Regions from separate parts of the Homo sapiens genome. Here regions 2, 3 and 4 are each linked to region 1. The links come from fine-mapping of genetic effects on gene expression. A gene starts in region 1. Each other region holds a variant in brackets. All regions are shown on one strand. Distances are between the middles of the regions.

Region 1 (5,000 bases):
AATTATAAGAGTCTAAATAACACGAACTGAAGATATTTCCAATACTGATACCTATTAGAAGTGCAACTTACATCATTTAAGCATTAAAACCTTGTAAGACAGCAACTGTGGCCACAGCAGTATTCCGAATTTCAGAATCAGTTCTCTTCAATAAGACAAAAACCTTTCTTTGTTAACATAGCTGCTTTAAATATAAAGGTATCAGCATTGTCCTCTTTTGAGAACCAGTAAATTTATTCAAGAATTGATCTGTAATATCAATAATGCTTCATTTAAAAGATGTAACACGCAAGGTACACTCCAGCATCCACTTCACAATGGAGATGAATTTGAAAATCTTTGTTACATAAGGCAGGAAATTAAATATTAAGATAGTGGGGGCCCGAAATCATTAGATTAATTTTCTACCTTTCATTTCATAATGCTCAATACTTCCCCCTCCTCTAATATCAAACTGGTTGACAGCCCATTAGATAAATGTGGTGTTACTGACAAAATGGTGCAATACAGGGATGAATCTGCAACCCAGACAAAATGCGACAACTGGCGATCGGTATTCTCTTTTCATCAGCATGAAGATGTACTCGCTTAAACAAAAAAAAGCCTCAGATGCATCTAACAACCAAAAATTTTTAAAAAGACTTTTTCCCCTTTAAAATAACTCCTCCCAGCCTCCACCCAGTCTAGGCTCTCTGCAATATGACAAATGCAGAATCTTCTGGAATGACTTGATACTGCCTCTCACCACGGCTTTGTTTGCACTATCAGATCAGACAGAATATTTTTTCCCCCAACTTATAGGAATTTCAACAGACGCGTGCCTGTATTCAAAAAAGAAACGGCATATGTCACACGAATCGAACCAGTCAGCTACATTCACCACCTTTTAATTTTACAGGCAATACCTACCCTTTTCAATACAAAAACATTAGGGAATAAAATGGAGATGACATGTTGAGAATGATCAATGAAAACGCTAGCGAGACAAACGTTCTCCCTTCCTAAAAGCCGGAGGACTTGCTTTGGGCGAATGGAGAAAGAAGAGCCTTTTGTTAAGAAAAACGTGAGCAAGGTGGTTTCGATTTTGCACCACGGAGCTCAGGTTTTCAAGAGACCCTATACAATGTTTCTGGGAAGATTCTCAGGGATGTGTCGGGACAGACAGTGGGGAAGATTCTGGGGGGGCTGGGGAGGTGGAAAACCGGGAGACCTGCTGAGTGAATGGGAAAGGCGCCGCCCAGACACCAGGGAGAGAAAGAGGAACCGCATCCATGCGGTCCCCCGCCCCCACGCCCAGGCTAGGAGGAGGGGGGAAGTGGGGCACAAAGGATGCGCACGCCTCCCCGCTCGGGTCCCCTGCACCCCTAGAGCCGCGGGGGCCGGAGACCCCGCTCCCAAGTCCAGCCCCGCGGGACCTCGCCCCGGCCCGCGCCCGCGCCGGGCCTGAATGGCAGCGCCGCGGGGCCACGGGGACTCCGAAAAGAGGCCGCGTCACAGCCCGGGTTCCCGTCGCCTCTCGGGACCCTCCCCAGCCCCCCTCAGTGAGCGAGACGGGGCGGTCAACCCGCCATCGCGACAGGGCGACGAAGCCCCGGGCCTTCCACGCCAAGGACCGCGTCTTCGGAGGGGCAGGGAGCGGCGGGGGAGGGGAGGAGACACTCACGTTCTTCATGGCCGCGGCCATGTCGTCGTAGCGCTCCGCCTGCTCGGCCAGCCGGGCTTTCTGCACCAGTTGCTCGCGGTCCACCATCTTCGCGGGGCTGGGTCTGGCCGGAGAAGGAGGAGGACACTGGGGCGGCCTGAAGGGCTTGGAGGGCGCGACTGGAGCCCAAGTGCCGGAGAGGACCGACCCACAGAGCGAGCAGCTGAGGCGGCGGCTGCGCGGAGGAGGCGGCTGGAGCTGCGACCGCGGGACCGGGCGCGAGGCGGCTGCGGCTGCTGTGCGTGCCACTGACGGACAACCCCCTGCGGCCCCGCCCACGCCGCATGACGAAGGCAGGCCCCGCCCACCCGTCCGCAAGCCCCGCCCATGCCCCGCCCGAGCCCGGCCGCGGCTAGAACTCCCCGCTCCCCAGCTGGGCTCACTGCGCGTCTTCCGGGCACCCCGTCCTTTCCCACTGCGCCCCCACTCTCCCCTTTTTTCACTTCACTCCCCAGTTCCCTCACCCCAGCTTCTCCAGTCGCCCCCTTACGCCTCCCCCTTGAGCCTCCCGCCCCGCCAGCCCTCGGACGCATGGGCCCCTGGGAGTTGTAGTGTAACCTGCAGTGCACTGAGGCGCTGAGGAGACCAAGGACAAAGGGGCGGTCAAGACTACAACTCCCAGCGGACATAGCGCGCAGGCGCAGGAGGACGGGGGGGGGTGCTTCGAATCCCGAGGCCGCTGGGGACCCCTGGCGGGGATCAGGGCTGCATCAGTCCCTGCGAGTGCTGATTCACCGCCCCGCCCCATATTCTCCGGGAAATTACGAGAGGAGGGGGCAGGGGCCTCAGTCCTAGACCCTGTTTCCGAGATCACGTAGCAGGTCGTGGTGGGGGAAGGACAGGAGGCGCGTCCATTGTAGATCCAGACTCTCAGTGTGGTGCCTGCCCGCGGGATGGCCGAATTAAGGGGCCAGACCCTGGGGACTGTCACCTCCACCCCCTACGAGCTTCCATTAAACCCCCCACCCCACCTTGAGGCTCTTGGGCCTGAATAGGTGAAAACATGGACGAACGACAAATACCGGCTGGCCACAGTGGTTGATTTCCAGAAAGGATGCAGCTGTCTGCTGGCTGACCCTGGAGAACCCCTTCTTCCTCTCCAGGGTGGAGTGCTAAAGATTGAGTTCAGCTACCAGGAGCCTACTCCACATCTAACTGGGCTGCGTCTAGGGCTTGGTTGTCCAGCCCTTCTCTCCCCTCCTAAGACATACATACCTACTGAGGTCACGCTGATATATTCTCGTTCATATTATTCCACATAGCTTGCAGATAGCATGGGTTTTTTTGCTTTGTTTTGCTTTTTTGTAGAGACGGGGGTCTAGCTTTGTTGCCCATGCTGGTCTCGAACTCCTGGGCTCAAGCGATCCTCACGCCTCGGCCTCCCAAGGTGCTGGGATTACAGATGTGAGCCACCATGCCTGCAGGCCTGATAGTTTTGACTGCACATTTTATTTACTTTATGTATTCAACAATTATCTATGAGAAGCTACTGTGTTCCAAGCCCTATTCTAAGCCACGAGGTACAGTAGTGAACAAAACAGACAAAAATCCCTGCCCAAGAAAATAGGTGAGATATGTACAGTATGCTAGAAGTCAGTAAGGAGTGAGTTTTGAGGTTGCAGTGAGCTGAGATTGCGCCACTGCACTCCAGTCTGGCGACAGAGCAAGACTCCGTTTCAAAAACAAATAATAAAATAAAAAGTTTTTTAAAGGCTGGGCACGGTGACTCACACCTGTAATCCCAGCACTTTGGGAGACCGAGGCGGGCGGATGACAAGGTCAGGAGATCGAGACCATCCTGGCCAACATGGTGAAACCCTGTCTCTACAAAAAATACAAAAGAACTAGCTGGGCGTGGTGGTGCCCACCTGTTATCCCAGCTACTCGGGAGGCTGAGGCAGGAGAATCACTTGAACCCGGGAGTCGGAGGTTGCAGTGAGCTGAGATCCCTCTACTGCACTCCAGCATGGGTGACAGAGCGAGACTCCGTCTCGAAAAAAAAAAAGAAGTGAGCTTTGGCCTGGCACGGTGACTCACACCTGTAATCCCAACACTTTGGGAGGCCGAAGCGGGTGGATCATCTGAGGTCAGGAGTTCGAGACCAGCCTGGCTAACGTAGCAAAACCCCATCTCAACTAAAAATACAAAAATTAGCTGGGTGTGGTGGTGGGCACCTGTAATCCCAGCTACTTGGGAGGCTGAGGCAGGAGAATTGCTTGAACCTGGGAGGTGGAGGTTGCAGTGAGCCGAGATCGTTTCATTGCACTTCAGCCTGGGCAACAAGAGCGAAACTCCATATCAAAAAACAAAACAAAAAAAAAGTGAGCTTTGCAGACTCTGCTGCTGCCAGGAGTACTCTACTACTGGCCATGGTCAATCCCACCGTGTTCTTTGACATTACTATTGAGCCCTTGGGCTGCGTCTCCTTCAAGGTTAGGGGCATGGAAACCAAGAAGCCAAGTGACCTCTCCGGAGCTTGCAGTGAGCCGAGATTGTGCCAGTGCACTCCAGCCTGGGAGACAGAAAAAGACTCCGTCTCAAAAAAAAAAAAAAAAAAAGAAGTGACCTCTCATCTAAACTGTAAAGCCATGTTAACATATCGGAGCTGTTAGCAGACAGTGTTGTAAAGACAGCAGAAAACTTTCGTTCTCTGAGCACTGGAGAGAAAGGATTTGGTTATAAGGGTTCCTACTCTCTCTTTTTTTTTCTTTTCTTTTTCTTTTTTTTTTTTTGAGACAGAGTCTCGCTCTGTAGCCCAGGCTGGAGTGCAGTGGTGCAGTCTTGGCTCACTGCAACCTCTGCCTCCCGGGTTCAAGCGATTCTCCTGCCTCAGCCTTCTAAGTAGCTGGGATTACAGGCGCGCACCACCACGCCCAGCTAATTTTTGTATTTTTAGTAGAGACGGTGTTTCACCATGTTAGGCTGGTCTCGAACTCCTGACCTCATGATCCATCCGCCTCAGCCTCCCAAAGTGCTGGGATTACAGGTGTGAGCCATTACGCCCGGCAAGGGTTCCTACTTTCACAGAATTACTCCAGGGATTATGTGTCAGGGTGGTAACTTTACACACCATAATGGCACTGGTGGCAAGTCCATCTATGGGGAGAAATTCGATGAAGAGAACCTCATCCTGAAGCATACAGATCCTGGCATCTTGCCCATGGCAGATGTTGGACCCAACACAAATGCTTCCCAGTTTTTCATCTGCACTGCCAAGACTAAGTGGTTAGATGGCCAGCATGGAGGTCTTTGGCAAGGTGAAAGCGAGCATGAATATTGTGGAGGCCATGGAGCGCTA
Region 2 (5,418 bases), 42 kb after region 1:
GCAATCTCAGCTTGCTGCAACCTCCGCCTCCCTGGTTAAAGCAATTTGCCTGCCTCAGCCTCCTGAGTAGCTGGGATTACAGGTGCCTGCCACCATGCCCAGCTAATTTTTTGTATTTTTAGTAGAGATGGGGTTTCACCATGTTGGTCAGGCTGGTCTTGAACTCCTGACCTCAGGTGATACACCTGCCTCGGCTTCCCAAAGTGCTGGAATTACAGGCATGAGCCACCGTGCCCAGCCTGAAGCACAGTTCTTAAAGCAGTTCACCTCCCTTGGGAACTGTTAGCGATGCAGATTCTCAGGCCCCATCCAGACCTGCAGAATCAGAAACTCTGGGATTGGGCCTCAATCTGTGTTTTCATGAGACCCCCTGATTTTCTTGAAAACTAGAAGCACTGCTCTCAGTTTCCGCTGCAGCTCTATGCCACGTGGAGCGCATGGCCAGTGTGACCCCAATAGTCGTTTTTTTCTTTGTTTTTCGAGACAGGATCTTGCTCTGTCACCCAGGCTGGAGTGCAGTGTCACAATCACGGCTCACTGCAGCCTTGACCCCCCCAGACTCCAGCGATCCTCCCTCCTCTGCCTCCCAAGTAGCTGGGACCGCCCCCAACACCTTGCTAATTTTTCTGATTTTTCGTAGAGATAAGGTACTATGTTCCCAAGATGGTCTCAAACTCCTGGGCTCAAGCAATCTTGCCACCTTGGCCTCCCAAAGTGCTGGAGTTACTGGCATAAACCACCATGCCCGGCTGATTGTCTGGTTTTAAAACTAGGAGAGGGGAACCAGTGGGGTGACTTGGACCTGTAGTTCCAGCTACTGAGGCGGGAGAATCCCTTGAGCCCAGGAGTTTGAGGCTGCAGTGGGCTATGATCACACCACTGCACTCTGGTCGGGACCAAACAGTGAGACCTCATCTCCAAAATCTCTAAAAAAATTTTTTTTAAAGGGAGAGGGGCTCTGCTGGGACAATCAAAGCCTTACATAGAAGCAGTAGTGCTGGTTTTCTTTTGGTCCAAGGTCAGGGTCAGGCAATGACCCAGAAGAATCCCTGGGACCCAGGCTGGGGTTCTTCCCTGGCACCAGGCATTGTAGCCTCTGGCCTGATCTGCATGGAACAGCCTTACCTGTGGGAAGTCCCTTCATTTATCTAGCCTACAGCCCTGCTGCCTGCCACAGTCTGTCTGTCCCTCCAGGTCCCAGGGCTCCACTCACCATCACACAGGACAGCCACATCCTCGTAGTGAAAGCAATTGTGGACGCCCCAGCCGCGGCTGCCGCACTCGCTCAGCGCAGCTTCCTGCCCGCGGCACTCCACGTTGTCCAGCAGGATGGGGCCTCGGCCTTGGCCAAAGGCAAGGGGCCGTGGCACGGGCAGTGCCAGGCCACAGCCCAGCTGGCGACACACTACGTTGGCGTCCACCACGTCCCAGTCGTCATCACAGACGCTGCCCCAGGAGCCACCGTGCATGACTTCCAGGCGGCCCCGGCAGCGGCTGGGGCCCCCCACCAGCCTCAGCTCTGTGAAGAGGGTGGAGCTGGCACCAGGGGGTCACTGAGTCCAACCTCCAGCATGCCCACTCCAGGATGTCCTTTTATTTTATTATTATTTTTTTTGGTAGAGACGGGGTCTCACTATGTTGCCAAGGCTGGTCTCAAACTCCTGGGCTCAAGTGATCCTCCTGCCTTGGCCTCCCAAAGCGCTAGGATCACAGACGTGCACTACGGGACCCAGCCAGGTTACCCGCTTTGCCATGAAGCCATGGGAACCTTGGGATCAATCCCTTCTGGAAAATGGGGAGACTACAGCTCCCCTGAGATGGGGGCATCTAGAGTCAAGGGGGGCTGGTTAGTCATCACTTCCTGTGGTTCCCTGTCTGAGGCTGGAGTACCTGGCGGACAGGTGAGGGTGAGGAAGGGCGGGGTGGGGCACCTACCTTGAAAGGGCAGTGGAGTGGGCTGTAGGGCGCTGGCTGAAACAGAGTGAGGAAGAGCATTGGCCCCTCTGCCCACACCATGGCTCCCTGGTCCCAGGAACACACCCCCCAACTCCCACAGTCCTCAACATTACCCCCATCTTCTTGGACTTCAGTACCCCTGCTTTGCCAAAGCCCCATTGTCTCTTTCTCTGACTGTCCTGATTGGCTTCCCTGCCTCACCCCTCTCCTAGTGGTCCCTGGGCCAACCTAGAGAGATCTGCGGGTGTAAATCTGTAGATCTGCACATCTCAAACTAATGCTAAATCCCATAATGACCCCTGTTACCTACAGGAGTCTCAGCTCCTGAGCTTTCACTACAAAACCTTCTAGAATCTTCTAACCATTCTGACCAGCCTCGCCTTTTTTCTTTTCTTTTCTTTTTTTGAGACAAAGTCTCACTCTTGTCACCCAGGCTGGAGTGCAATGGCACGATCTCAGCTCACTGCAGCCTCTTCCTCTGGGGTTCAAGCGATTCTTCTGCCTCAGCCTCCCGAGTAGCTGGGATTACAGGTGCACACCACCAAGTCCAGCTAATTTTTGTATTTTTAGTAGAGATGGGGTTTCGCCATGTTGGCCAGGCTGGTCTTGAACTCCTGACCTCAGGTAATCCACCCACTTTGGCCTGCTAAAGTGCTGGGATTATAGGTGTGAGCCAACACACCTAGGCAAGAGCTTTTTTCAATTCCCAGCTTGGAGCCCCTTCCTCTGGGAAGCCATCCTGGAGCCCTCAGCTAGAAGTGCTCTCTGTTTCCTCTGAATTCCTGGACACCACATACCCAGGCCTCTTTCAGGGCCTTCTCTGGTAATGTGGCCATGCCTGTCTCAACTCTGTGTCCCCAGACTCTCCGCTCAGAACCTGGTACTCAGCAGATGTTCAGTAGCTCCACCTTAAATGTGTAAATTGGCTTTGGGATTCATCATATTTCCCTCCCTAAAGATTTACCTAGATGAGTCCTTCTACTTCATTCTTCTTCTTCTTCTTCTTTTTAAGACAGTGTCTCAGTCTGTCACCCAGCCTGGAGTGCAGTGACATGATCATAGCTCACTGCACCCTCCAATACCGGAGTTCAATCCATCCTCCCGCCTCAGCCTCCAGAATAGCTGGGACAAGCTCCTGCCACCCTGCCCAGCT[A/AT]TTTTTTTTTTTTTTTTTTGAGACAGAGTCTTACTCCATTCAGGCTGGAGCACAGTGGCATGATCTCATCTCACTGCAGCCTCTGCCTCCTGGGTTCAAGTGATTCTCCCACCTCAGCCTCCCGAGTAATTGGGACTGCAGGCGCACACCGCCACACCCAGCTAATTTTTATATTTTTTAGGTAGAAATGGGGTCTCACCATGTTGGCCAGGCTAGTCTTGAACCCTTAACCTCAAGTGATCCGCCTGCCTCAGCCTCCCAAAGTGCTAGGATTACAGGCATGAGCCACCGCTCCTGGCCTAATTTTTTAATTTTTTGTAGAGACAGGGGTCTCACTTTGTTGCCCAGGCTGGTCTCGAACTCTTGGCCTCAAGTGATCCTCCCGTCTCAGCCTCCCAAAGTGCTAGAATTACAGGTGTGAGCCACCTTGCCTGGCCTTGAGTCTTTCTGCTTCAGCCATCATGTATGTCCTCATTGCTTTCTTTTTTTCTTTTTTGTTTTTCTTGAGACGGAATTTCGCTCTTGTTGCCCAGGCTAGAGTGCAATGGTGCCATCTTTGCTCACCGCAACCTCCCCCTCCTGGGTTCAAGTGATTCTCCTGCCTCAACCTCCCAAGTAGCTGGGATTACAGGCATACCACCATGCCTGGCTAATTTTGTATTTTTAGTAGAGATGGGGTTTCTGCATGTTGGTCAGGCTGGTCTCAAACTCCCGACCTCAGGTGATCCATCCGCCTCAGCCTCCCAGAGTGCTGGGATTACAGGCGTGAGCCACTGCACCCGGCCTTCATTGGTTTCTTTAGGCGAACTCAGTTAATCATTAGGATAATTTATAAGTTAGGCAGGATTTTACAGACAGGGCAACTTCAGGGTTAGTGAGATTAGACAACTTACTCAGGGCCACGTAGCAAATCAAGGGTAGAGCTGAGAGACTACCCAGACAGCCACACTCTTCTTCATCATGCAGTTCTGAGCACGATGCTTGAGAGTGGAGGTGGGAGAGGAAACAGGGAAGTGAAATTTGCCTACCAGGCAAAATGGAAAGCCGGAAAATAATTCCTCACTTGTGGTCCGAGTATGACAGTTCTGACACTTTCCTTATAACCACCCCCTGCAGCCTGTACTTGTGTACGCATTTTACTGATGAAGAAACTGAGACTCCACTTCTTTTTTTTGAGACAGAGTCTCGCCCTGTCACTCAGGCTGGAGTGCAATGGCGCAATCTCAGCTCACTGCAACCTCCACCTCCTGGGTTCAAACAATTCTCCTGCCTCAGCCTCCTGAGTAGCTGGGATTACAGGCGCCCGCCACCATGCCCAGCTATTTTTTGTATTTTTAGTAGAGACGGGGTTTCACCATGTTGGCCGGGCTGGTCCTGAACTCCTGACCTCATGATCCGCCCTCCTCAGCCTCCCAAAGTGCTGGGATTACAGGCGACAGCCACCGTGCCTGGCTGATTCAACTTATTCTTATTTATTTATTTATCTTTATTTCTTTTTGAGACAGAGTCTCGCTCTGTCACCCAGGCTGGAGTGCAGTGGCGTGATCTTGGCTCACTGCAACCTCCACTTCCCAGGTTCAAGTGATTCTCCTGCCTCAGCCTCCTGAGTAGCTGGGATTACAGGTGCGTGCTGCCAAGCCTGGTTAATTTTTGTATTTTTAGTAGGGACGCGGGTTTCACCATGTTGGCCAGGCTGGTCTCAAACTCCTGATCTCAGGTGATCTTTCCGCCTTGGCCTCCCAAAGTACTGGGATTGCAGGTGTGAGTCACCGAGCCCGGCCTTCTTCTTATGTTTGGATAGTCCCTAGGTCATTTGATTTCATCTCTTTTACCAGCTGTCTTTCCAACAGCCATTGGTGAGCACACCCTCTTTCTGTCCTTCCCTGTGCCCAGTGTCCCCTAACTGCCCATTCCATGGGTGCGTTTACCTGTCACCTCCAGTACTGAGCCCTTCATTCCCCAAACTCAGACTCTTAGCTCTTTTGTCAACTCTGGGCAAAGGTCAGCATTGGAAAGAACAACAGGAACGAGCTCATTCACAACCCTCCTCCTACTATAAAGTTACAGCTGGGACAACTGAGATTCAGAAAGAGGAAGTGGCAAGGGCTAACAGGGGAGGACTCACCCAGTGGCAGGAGGAGAAGGAAAGACAGGGCTTGGGGGAGGAAGGGAGGGGCAGCACTCCCATCTCCCAACCTCCACCCCCAGCGCTTCTCATCCAGCTGGGGACCAATTAGCATCTCTGCTTCCTTGTGCATCTAGATGGTGAAGGGTGTTTCAGATGCTCCCATCAAGGCGCCAGGGAGAAG
Region 3 (5,418 bases), 760 kb before region 1:
CCACGGATCAGCAAACTACAGTTACAAGCCACAACCAGACCAGACTAACACCTGGTTTTGAAAATAAAGCTTATGGCCGGGCACAGTGGCTCATGCCTGTAATCCCAGCACTTTGGGAGGCCAAGGTGGGTGGATCACCTGAGGTCAGGAGTTTGAGACCAGCCTGGCCAACATGGTGAAACCCCATCTCTACTAAAAATACAAAAATTAGCTGGGCGTGGTGACGGGCGCCTGTAATCCCAGCTACTTGCTACTCGGGAGGCTGAGGCAGGAGAATTGCTTGAACCTGGGAGGCAGAGGTTGCAGTGAGCCGAGATTCCACAATTGCACTCCAGCCTGGCTGAGAGAGCTCTCAGCGACAACAAAACTCTCAACAACAACAACAAAAAAAAAAAGAAAAAGAAAGAAAGAAAGAAAAGAAATCTTATTAGAATTCACCCACTCTCATGCATTTACGTATTCATTTAATATCAGCTGAGGCTGCTTCTGCATTACAAAGGCAGAGTTGAATGGTTGCGATGGAGACCATGCGGCCTGCAAAGCCTAAAATATTTACTAACTGGCTCTTTGCAGAAAATGCTGACCCCTTGTCCATAGGATATATGTTTGGCCACAAGTTCCTTGTTGATGCTGGGGCTATACCAGGGCTTCTTGGACTAGTCTTCATATTTGTATACGTTTGAACTTTTCTATAATGAAAGGTTAAAAAAAAAAACTTTGACCCAGTAATCTCACTCCTAGGAATCTATCCTTTGGAAATAAAAACTTTTTTTTTTTTTTTCTGTTTAGACAGAGTCTCACTCTGTTGCCCAGGCTGGAGTGCAGTGGCATGATCTCAGCTCACTGCAAACTCCGCCTCCTGGGTTCAAGCGATTCTCCTGCCTCAGCCTCCCAAGTAGCTGGGACTACAGGCGCATGCCACCATGCCTGGCTAATTTTTATATTTTTAGTAGAGACAGGGTTTCGCTATGTTGACCATCCTGGTCTCGAACTCCTGACCTCAAGTGATCCACCCGCCTCGGCCTCACAAAGTGCTGGGATTACAGGCGTGAGCCACAGCACCTGGCCAGCTTTTTTTTTTTTTTTTTTTTTTTTTTTTTCAAAAGAGATAGGGTTTCGCTGTCTTGCTATGTTGCCCAGGCTGGCGGGACTTGAACACTTGGATTCCAGTGATCCTCCTACCTCAGCCTCTCAAGTAGCTGGGACTATAGCTGCACACTGCCACATCCAGCTGCTGTTTTTCTAAATTCTCAGATATGCTCTTTTTTTTTTTTTTTTTTTTTTTTTTTGAGACGGAGTCTCGCTCTGTCACCAGGCTGGAGTGCAGTGGCGTGACCTCGGCTCACTGCAACCTCTGCCTCCTGAGTTCAAGCGATTCTCTCACCTCAGCCTCCCGAGTAGCTGGGACTACAGGCGCCTGCCACCACGCCCAGCTAATGAATATGTTCTTAAATTCATATCTCCTTATATATTTTCTTCTCCTGACCAGACTTGATTTTTAAACAGTATAACCTCTGTTGTAAGTTGAATTGTATACCCCCGCCCCACAAAAATATATAATCACGCCCAACCCCCCCCACCCCGTACCTATGAATATGATCTTATTTACAAATAGGGCATTTGCAGATGTAATTAGTTAAGATGAGGTCACACTGGAGTAGGGTCATATTATGGAATGTAATATGACTGGTGATCCTCGAAGAAGATGTAGGGATCCAGAGACACACAGGGAGGATGCTGCATGAAATGAGACAGAGATGAGTGATGAGTCTACAAGCCAAGGAATGCCAAGGACAGCCAGCGGCCACGAGAAGCTAGAAAGAATCCTTCCCGGCCGGGCGCAGTGACTCACACCTGTCATCCCAGCACTTTGAGAGGCAGAGGCGGGAGGATCACCTGAGGTCAGGAGTTCAAGACCAGCCTGGCCAACACAGCGAAACCGTGTCTCTACTAAAAAATACAAAAATTAGCTGGGTGTGGTGGTGTGTGCCTGTAGTCCTAGCTATTAGGGAGGTTGAGGCAGGTGGATTGCTTAAGCCCAGGAGGTTGAGAGTGCAGTAAGCAGTAATCACGCCACTGCACTCCAGCCTGGGTGACAGAGCGAGACTCTCAAAAAAAAAAAAAAAAATGGAGCCTTTCCTAGAGCTTTCAGAGACAGTATTGCCCTACCTTGCAAGACGGTGAGAGAATGCAGCCACCCAATTAGTGGGAATTTGTTGACAGCCCCAGGAAACTAATTACAGGGTCCTTTCCCCATCAGATGGGGTCCTCTGGGAGGACAAGAATGACATGCGATGCTTCCCCTACAGCACATGATTTGGGGCTCTCCTGAGCACAGTCGTTGGCTCTGCAGGGTGAGCGTAAGAGCAGTCAGGAAGGAATCTCTGGCCAGCACTTTGGGAAGCTGAGGTGGGAGGATCGCTTAAGGCCAGGATTTTGAGATCAGCCCGGACAACATGGTGAAACCCTGTCTCTACAAAAAATACAAAAATTAGCCAGGTGTGGTGGTGCACAACTGTAGTCCCAGCTACTAGGGAGGTTGAGGTGGGAGGATCGCTTAAGCCCAGCAGGCAGAGGTTGCAGTGAGCCGTGATCGCCCCCACTGCATTCCAGCCTGGGCAACAGAGCAAAAACCCTGTCTCAAAAAAAAGGAAAAAAAAAAAGATGCAAGTAAGAAGTGAAAAGTTCATTCCCCTAAACCTCTCCATGAAGCAGTACTTCTCTCCTATGGAGA[C/T]GCAGTGCTTACAGCTTCCTCTTAGCACGTCCTTCCCTGGACCTTAGTCCTCAGTGACAGAACTGTCCCAAGCACTGTCTTCCCTGTACATTTCCTCAAGTGCATTACAGCCGTTTAAACTATGTTCTTCCCCTGGCACCATAGGCCAGGGGCACCATGACATAGGCTGGGGCACCATGACAATGGCAAAATTCTGGCTGCAGACAGACCCCTGGGCAAAGTCTCCATACTTCCGGAGCCCATCAAGGTTGTCTGCAGTCAGAAAGGACTTACAAGGCATATAAACACATAGAAGGACAAGAAACCCAAATCTGTAAGATGCTGACCTGGACATGGTTAAGTTCCAGGGGGTTTGGGAAGGCCTGTAAGGAATATGGGCCGTGAGGAAGAGGACCACACCAGGTAGTTGGAAATGCTAGAAATGGGGCTGGATGTGGTGGCTCATGCCTGTAATCCCAGTACCTTAGGAGACTCAGGTGGGAAGATCACTTCAGGACAGGAGTTCAAGACCAGCCTGGGCAACATAGTGAGACCTCATCCCTACAAAATATTAGCTGGGTATGGTGGCATGCGCCTGTATTCCCAGCTACTCTGGAGACTGAGGTGGGAGGATTACTTGAGCGATCCAGGCATTGGAGGCTGCAGTGAGCTGAGATTGCATCACTATGCTCGTCTGAATGACAGAGCAAGACCTTGTCTTAGAAAAGAAGGAAGAAGGAAGGAAGGAAGGAAGGGAGGGAGGGAGGGAAGAAAAATGGTAGAAACTGCTTCAGGGCCTCTAGGGAGGACCCATGATGGGTGAGATTTAGATTTACCCTAAAAATAACTGTTCCTACTGCTTGACCAATTGCTCAAACTTGTGGTCATTATGAACCTTGCTCACACACACACGCAAAAATCTTATAGTAACAAATTTTTAAAATCTTTAAAATTCCCATAAGCCACGTAAAATAATATACCGTGAGTTTGTGACTATGGATCCACTGAGTGTGTGTGTATAGCTGAGAATCAGGAAAGTTCTGTGCTGTAGTGTTGAAAGGAGAGAGAAACCTTTTAAACTGAGACACTGCTCAAGGAAGACTTCTTAAAGGGAAAGGAGGGATAACTCGGCCCAGCTACTGTCCCAGCCATTACCCACTTCTGTCATATATGCCTCATAGGAACTCTGGGGTCTGGAGGGCTGTTGTTCAGAAAGGTGGAGAAACTCACCCAAGGTCATGCTCTTTGGTTCCAAGCCCTGAACCAGCACCCGCTCTGTACTGTGGAGGGGTTCGGGCCTGCAGGGGACTGGGTCTGGGGTTCTGGACACAGATGACAGGCCTTCTGGGCAGAGGAAGTGCCACAAGTAAAGGCACCAAAGTGGAAGGGCATGGAGCATGCAGCCTGAGGGCCGGGGGGGATGGAGGAGAAGCCAGGAGGCAGGTGAGGCTGCGTGTGGGAGGCCAGTGGGCTTCTGAGTGGCAAGAAGAGATGACAGCAGGTGGAGGGGAATGGGCCAGCAGTGGCGGCAGCTGGGGTAGAGCTGGATGGAGCCTGGAGGTGAGAATTCAGGGAGGAAGCTATTTTTGTTGTTGTTGTTGTTTTGAGACGGAGTCTTGCCCTGTCGCCCAGGCTGAAGTGCAATGGCGCAATCTTGGCTCACTGCAACCTCCACCTCCTGGGTTCGAGTGATTCTCCTGTCTCAGCCTCCGAAGTAGCTGGGATTATAATAGTTGCACATTACCACGCCTGGCTAATTTTTGTATTTTTAGTAGAGACAGGGTTTTGCCATGTTGGCCAGGCTGTTCTCAAACTCCTGTCCTGAGGTGATCCCCCTGCCTTGGCCTCCCAGTGTTGGGATTAGAGGCGTGAGCTACCGCGCCTGGCTGTATTTTTATTTAATCAATTATTATTATTTTTTGGAGACAGGGTCTTGCTCTGTCACCCAGGCTGGAGTGCAGTGGTGCAATCATAGCTTACTATAGCCTCAACCTCCTGGGTTCAGGCAATCCTCCCACCTCAGCTTCCTGAGTAGCTGGGACCACAGGCACATACCACTATGCCTGGCTAGTTGGTTTTTTTAAATAGAGACGGGGTCTCATTATGTTGCCCAGGCTGGTCTTGAACTCCTGGCCTCAAGCAATCCTATTGCTTCAACCTCCTAAAGTGCTGGGCTTATAGGTGTGAGACACCATGCCCAGCCAGAAGCTATTTAATAGCATAAAAGTACAGGAAAAATGGAATCAAAATGAAAGATGTGAGAATGGAAATGACCCAATATAATGTGAGCTGTAAAACGAGCTTCAGTAGGACTGGCAGATAGGAGCTCCGGGTTACAGGGAGACAGCAGAAGGATGCATCCATGGTGCCTCCAAGATGATGCAGAGACTTTAGGAGGCCGAGGGGGGCAGATCACCTGAGACCAGGAGTTCAAGACCAGCCTAGCCAACATGGTGAAACCCCATCTCTACTAAAATACAAAAATTAGCTGAGTGTGGTGGCTCATGCCTATAATCCCAGCTACTTGGGAGGCTGAGGCAGAATTGCTTGAACACGGGAGGTGCAGGTTGCAGTGAGCCGAGATCCCGCCATTGTACTCCTGCCTGGGCGACAGAGTGAGACTCCGTCTCAAAAAAAAAAAAGATGATGCAGAGGCTCTGGACCTAGATGAGGGGAGGATAGCAGCAAGGGCCACAAGCTGGGGA
Region 4 (5,418 bases), 53 kb after region 1:
CAGCCTAATTTTGCCTTCTTGTGTAGTTCTTTTTTTTTTTTTTGAGATGGAGTTTCGCTCTTGTTGCCCAGGCTGGAGTGCAATGGTGTGATCTCAGCTCACAGCAACGTCCGTCTCCCCGAGTTCAAGGGATTCTCCTGCCTCAGCCTTCCAAAGTGTTGGGATTACAGGCATGAGCCACTGCACTGGCCAAAAAAAAAAAATGTTGAGAAGCTCCTGAGGATCAAACAAATTGGGGACCAGTCCCAGCTTTTTATGGTGAGGCTGGGAAGACTGAGGCCAAGGGAGGAAAACAGGTGGCATGAGTGTGGGCCCGGCAGGACTTAATTTCCTGACTCCTGGTCATGATGCTGTTTCCTATTTCTTGGAAAAAGAAAGTACTAGATGTACCAGGCGAGGTGGCTCATACCTGTAATCCCAGCACTTTGGGAGGCTGAGGTGGGCAGATCACTTGAGGTCAGGAGTTCGAGACCAGCCTGGCTGACATGGTGAAACCCCGTCTCTACTAAAAATACAAAAATTAGTCAGGTGTGGTGGCGGGTGCCTGTAATCCCAGCTACTCGAGAGGCTGAGGTGGGAGAATCGCCTGAACCCGGGAGGTGGAGGTTGCAGTGAGCTGAGATCGCACCACTGCACTCCAGCCTGGGCAACAGAGCAAGACTCCATCTCAAAAGAAAAAAAAAAAAAAAAAAGAAAAGAAAATACTTGATGGAAGGCTGCCATCACCATGCTGCAAAATCTCCACGCCCCTGCTGCCCGCACCTGTCCTTCCTCCCTCCCTCCTCCCCTGGCCTGGGGAAGCCCCTTCCCTGAAGTCCAGATTCCATTCCTTCCGTCATCTCAGGGACCTCTTTCCCTCCATCTGCACATCTATCTGTCTTCCATGTTCAGCTGCTCCTTCCCAATCAGATTTTTCGGTTCCTAAGCAAGCTCTCGTCTTTCCCATTAAAGCAAACAGTGGCCAGGAGTAGTGGCTCATGCCTGTAATCCCAACACTTCCGGAAGCAAAGGCAGGAGGATCGCTTGAGACCAAGAGCTCAAGACCAGCCTGGGCAACATAGGGAGACCCCATCTCTATAAAAAATTAGAAACATAGCCGGGCATGATGGTGCGCACTGGGCTGTAGTCAGTTACTTGCAAGGCTGAGGTGGGAGGATGACTTGAGCCTGGGAGGTTGAGCCTGCAGTGAGCTATGATTGTGCCACTGCACTCCAGCCTGGGTGACAGAGAGAGACCCTGTTTTAGGGGAAAAAAAAAGAACGATGATGAGTTATTGCCACCCACCTATGAGAATGGTTGAAAAAAAAATAGTTGGTGATATCAAATGCTAGTGAGGATATGGAGAAACTGGGTTCCTCACACATTGCTGATGGGAATGTAAAATGGTCCAGATACTCTGAAATATAGTCTGACAGTGTCTTAAAAATCTAAATGTACATTCACCATATGAACTAGCAATTGTACTCCTGGGCATTTATCCAAGAGAAATGAAAACTTACATCTTCACAAAAAAAACCAGTATGTGAATGCTCATAGCAGTTTTATTTGTAATAGCCAAAAACAGGAAGCATTCAAAATTTCCTTTAGCTGGGTGAGGTGGCGTGTGCCTGTAGTCTCAGCTACCCAGGAGGCTGTGGCAGGAGGATCACTTGAGCCCAGGAATTTGAGACCATCCTGGGAAACACAGTGAGACTCCAACTCTACAAAAATAAAATAATTAGCCAGGCATGGTGATTCTTGTGGACCCAGCTACACGAGAGGCTGAGGTGGGAGGATCACTTGAGCCCAAGAAGTTGAGGCTGCAGTGAGCTGTGCTTGCGTCACTGCACTCCAGCCTGGGGGACAGAGTGAGACTCTGTCTCAAAAAAAAAAAAAAAGAAAAGAAAAAGATAAAAAAGGAATAACTGTTGATGTATGCAACAATTTGGATGGATCCCAAGGGCATTATAATGAGTAAAAAAAGCTAGTCTTAAAGCTCACACATTGTATGATTCCGTTTATAAAACATCTTCAAAATGATGAAATTGCACAGGTGAAAAACAGATTAGTAATGTTTAGGTTTAAGGATTGTGGAGGGCAAGAGTGGGTGTGATTACAAAGAGGTAGTACAAAGGGGTATTTATGATGATGAAATAGTTTTGTATCTTAATTGTATATGATAAAATAACAGAACTATACACACACCTTGTATCATGTCATGTTCTTGGTTTTGGTATTATAATTTTATGGAAGATGTAAACATTGCTGGGCGCAGTGGCTCACGCCTATAATCCCAGCACTTTGGGAGGTCGAGGCAGGCAGATCACCTGAGGTCGGGAGTTTGAGACCAGCCTGACCAACATGGAGAAACCCCATCTCTACTAAAAATACAAAATTAGCCAGGGGTGGTGGCGCATGCCTGTAATCCCAGCTACTCGGGAGGCTGACGCAGGAGAATCGCTTGAACCCGGGAGGCGGAAGTTGCAGTGAGCTGAGATCGCGCCATTGCACTCCAGCCTGGGCAACAAGAGCAAAACTCCGTCTCAGAAAGAAAAAAAAAAAAGATGTAAACATTGAGGAAGCTAGGGTGAAGGGTAACCACACATCCCTATACATTCCTTTCTTTTCTTTTCTTTCTTCTTTGTCTTCTTCTTCTTCTTCTTTTTTTTTTTTTTTGAGACGGAGTCTTTCTCTGTTGCCCAGGCTGGAGTGCAATGATGTGATCTCGGTTCACTGCAACCTGTGCCTCCTGGGTTCAAACGATTCTCCTCCTTCAGCCTCCCAAGTAGCTGGGACTACAGGCGCGTGCCACTGCGCCCAGCTAATTGTTCTATTTTTAGTAGAGACGGGGTTTCATCATGTTGGCCAGGCTGGTCTTGAACTCCTGACCTCATGGCCTCCCCAACTCGGCCTCCCAAAGTGCTGGGATTACAGGTGTGAGCCGCTGTGCCTGGCCTCTTCTTTTTTTGAGACAGGGTCTTGCTTTGTTGCCCAGTATGGAGTGAAATGCTGTGATCACAACTTACTGCAGCCTCAACCTCTTGGGCTCAAGCGATCCTTCCGCCTCAGCCTCTCAGCTTCCTGCGTAGCTGGGACTACAGGCGCATGCCACCACAACTTGCTAATTTCTGTATTTTTTTTTAGTAGAGTCAGGGTTTTGCCATGTTGGCCAGGCTAGTCTCAAACTCTTCAGCTCAAGCAATCCTCCCACCTTGGCTTCCCAAAGTGCTGGGATTACAGGCTTGAGCCACCATGCCCAGCCACCACTTCCTGTGAATCTATAATGATTTCAAAATAAAA[CT/C]TTTTTTTAAAAAAAAGCCTCAATTGATTTACAACAACAAAACAGACTAATATTTTAATTTTATTTATTCATTTATTTTTTGAGACAAGTTCTCCCTGTTGCCCAGGGTGGAGTGTAGTGGCGTGATCATAGCTCATTGCAGTTGCGAACTCTGAGGTTGAAGTAATCCTCCCACCTCAGTTCCCCGAGTAGCTGGGACTACAGGCGTGCGCCACCATGCCCAGCTAATTATTGTATTTTTTGAAGAGACAAAGTCTCACTATGTTGCCCAGGCTGGCTTCAAACTCTTGGGCTGAAGCAATCCTCCTGCCTCAGCCTCCCAAAGTGCTGGGATTATAGGCATGAGCCACCTCATCTGGCCCATGCTGATTTTTCTTTCTTTCCTTCTTCTTCTTTTTTTTTTTTTTTTGAGACAGAGTCTTCCTCTGTCACCCAGGCTGGAGTGCAGTGGCGTGATCTCAGCTCGCTGCAACCTCCACCTCCTGGGTTCAAGTGATTCTCATGCCTCAGCCTCCCAAGTAGCTGGGATTACAGGTGTGTGCCACCACACCTGGCTAATTTTTGTACTTTTAGTAGAGATGTGGTTTTGCCATGTTGCCCAGGCTGGTCTTGAACTCCTGGCCTCAAGCGGTCCGCCTGCCTTAGCGTCCCAAAGTGCTGGGATTACAGGTGTGAGCCACTGCACCCAGCCCCATATTAATATTTGTATTTGAAAGCAAAAAATTTTAGTACCTCTCTAAGTCACCACCTCAAGGTGTGATAAATGGATTCTGACAAGTGGTTTTTCCTGACATGAGAAGCTGCAGGTGCCTAGGCGGTTGGTTCACTGATTTTCCTCCTCAAAGACCCTTTGGGAGCAGCCTGGCATGACTGGAGAGTGGGAAAATCTGCCTATGGTCTGTAAATGGATTCTCTCTGAGTTTGCCTATTACGGAATGTGTGCTTCTTCAACGCTTCCGCTCCTGGGAGGTCAGTAACACTCAAGTGCTGATGATTCCATTTAGGACAGTTAGGAAAAGACCTTCTCATGCAGGAACAGACTCTGCTTCTACCCCTTCCCTTTCCCCTTCCCCTTCCCCTCCTCCTCCTCCTTTTTTTTTTTTTTTTTTTTTTTGAGACGGAGTCTTGCTCTGTCACCCAGGCTGGAGTGCAATGCTGTGATCTCGGCTCACCGCCCCACCTGCGCCTCCTGAGTTCAAGTGATTCTTCTGCCTCAGCCTCCCAAGTAGCTGGCACTACAGATGCAAGATGAGTGCCACAGTAACCAGCACAACTCCAAATCTTATGCAGCCATGGTACATTTGTCAAAACTGAGAAATTAACATTGGCACATTAATATTAACCAAACTACAGATTTTATTTCAATGAGTATTACCAGTTTTCTCACTAATGTCCTTTTTCTGTTCCAGGAGCCAATCCAGGATACCACATTGCATTTAGTAAGCACATTTTACAATTACGATATAGGCATTAAAAGGTCTGGAACGAGGCCCAGCGCGGTGGCTCATGCCTGTAATCCCAGCACTTTGGAAGGCCGAGGTGGGCGGATCACGTGAGGTCAGGAATTCAAGACCAGCCTGGCCAACATGGTGAAACCCTGTCTCTGCTAAATTAGCCAGGTGTGGTGGCACATGCCTGTAGTCCCAGCTACTTGGGAAGCTGAGGCAGGAGAATCCTTGGAACCCGGGGAGCGGAGGTTTCAGTGAGCCGAGATCGCGCCACTGCACTTCAGCCTGGCGATAGAGTGAGACTCCGTCTCAAAAAAAAAAAAAAAGGTCTGGAATGATTCAGCACAAACTATTAACTATGACAACTATGACAACTGTTACCAATGGCTGGGGGTGGCGGGAGTGGATTTGATTCTTATTTTAGATTTTATTTTATTTTTTATTTATTTATTTTTTTTGAGACAGAGTCTCGCTTTGTCACCCAGGCTGGAGTGCAGTGGCACAGTCTCGGCTCACTGCAACCTCTGCCTCCCAGGTTCACGCCATTCTCCTGCCTCAGCCTCCCAAGTAGCTGGGACTACAGGCATCCGCCACCACAACCGGCTAATTATTTTTGTATTTTTAGTAGAGATGGGGTTTCACCATGTTAGCCAGGATGGTCTTGATCTCCTGACCTCGTGATCCACCCGC

Which allele goes with the higher level. Alleles are on the strand shown, and positions count from the first base shown. SD is a standard deviation of normalised expression in the study named. Not every link is listed here.
For the expression in caudate of the gene that starts at base 1,933 in region 1, allele C in region 3 goes with a lower level than allele T (small effect, 0.35 SD a copy in GTEx).

Evidence for each region.
Region 2: its variant is fine-mapped to the expression of YWHAG in whole blood (INTERVAL, PIP above 0.99).
Region 3: its variant is fine-mapped to the expression of YWHAG in caudate (GTEx, PIP 0.98).
Region 4: its variant is fine-mapped to the expression of YWHAG in whole blood (INTERVAL, PIP 0.98).

What each region holds. Positions count from the first base shown.
Region 1 is chr7:76,357,059-76,362,058 of GRCh38, forward strand. It overlaps YWHAG (tyrosine 3-monooxygenase/tryptophan 5-monooxygenase activation protein gamma), which reads right to left and starts at 1,933. Exons shown (of 2, transcript NM_012479.4): 1 at 1,664-1,933. The coding sequence starts at 1,750. It also overlaps the pseudogene PPIAP81. RefSeq lists silencers at 1,064-1,254, 1,338-1,537, 1,858-2,267 and an enhancer at 1,362-2,008.
Region 2 is chr7:76,399,073-76,404,490 of GRCh38, forward strand. SSC4D (scavenger receptor cysteine rich family member with 4 domains) reads right to left here. Exons shown (of 11, transcript NM_080744.2): 2 at 5,235-5,418; 3 at 1,936-1,971; 4 at 1,214-1,519. The coding sequence starts at 5,367. It also overlaps a transcript of ZP3 not described here. Among named protein-coding and RNA genes, the nearest start is that of SSC4D, 7.9 kb to the right of the region's middle. The variant A/AT (reference allele first, on the strand shown) is at 3,110.
Region 3 is chr7:75,601,233-75,606,650 of GRCh38, forward strand. The region is part of intron 1 of HIP1 (huntingtin interacting protein 1); the gene reads right to left. Among named protein-coding and RNA genes, the nearest start is that of SPDYE5, 110 kb to the left of the region's middle. RefSeq lists an enhancer at 1,692-2,642. The variant C/T (reference allele first, on the strand shown) is at 2,735.
Region 4 is chr7:76,410,326-76,415,743 of GRCh38, forward strand. It overlaps a transcript of ZP3 not described here. Among named protein-coding and RNA genes, the nearest start is that of SSC4D, 3.3 kb to the left of the region's middle. The variant CT/C (reference allele first, on the strand shown) is at 3,280.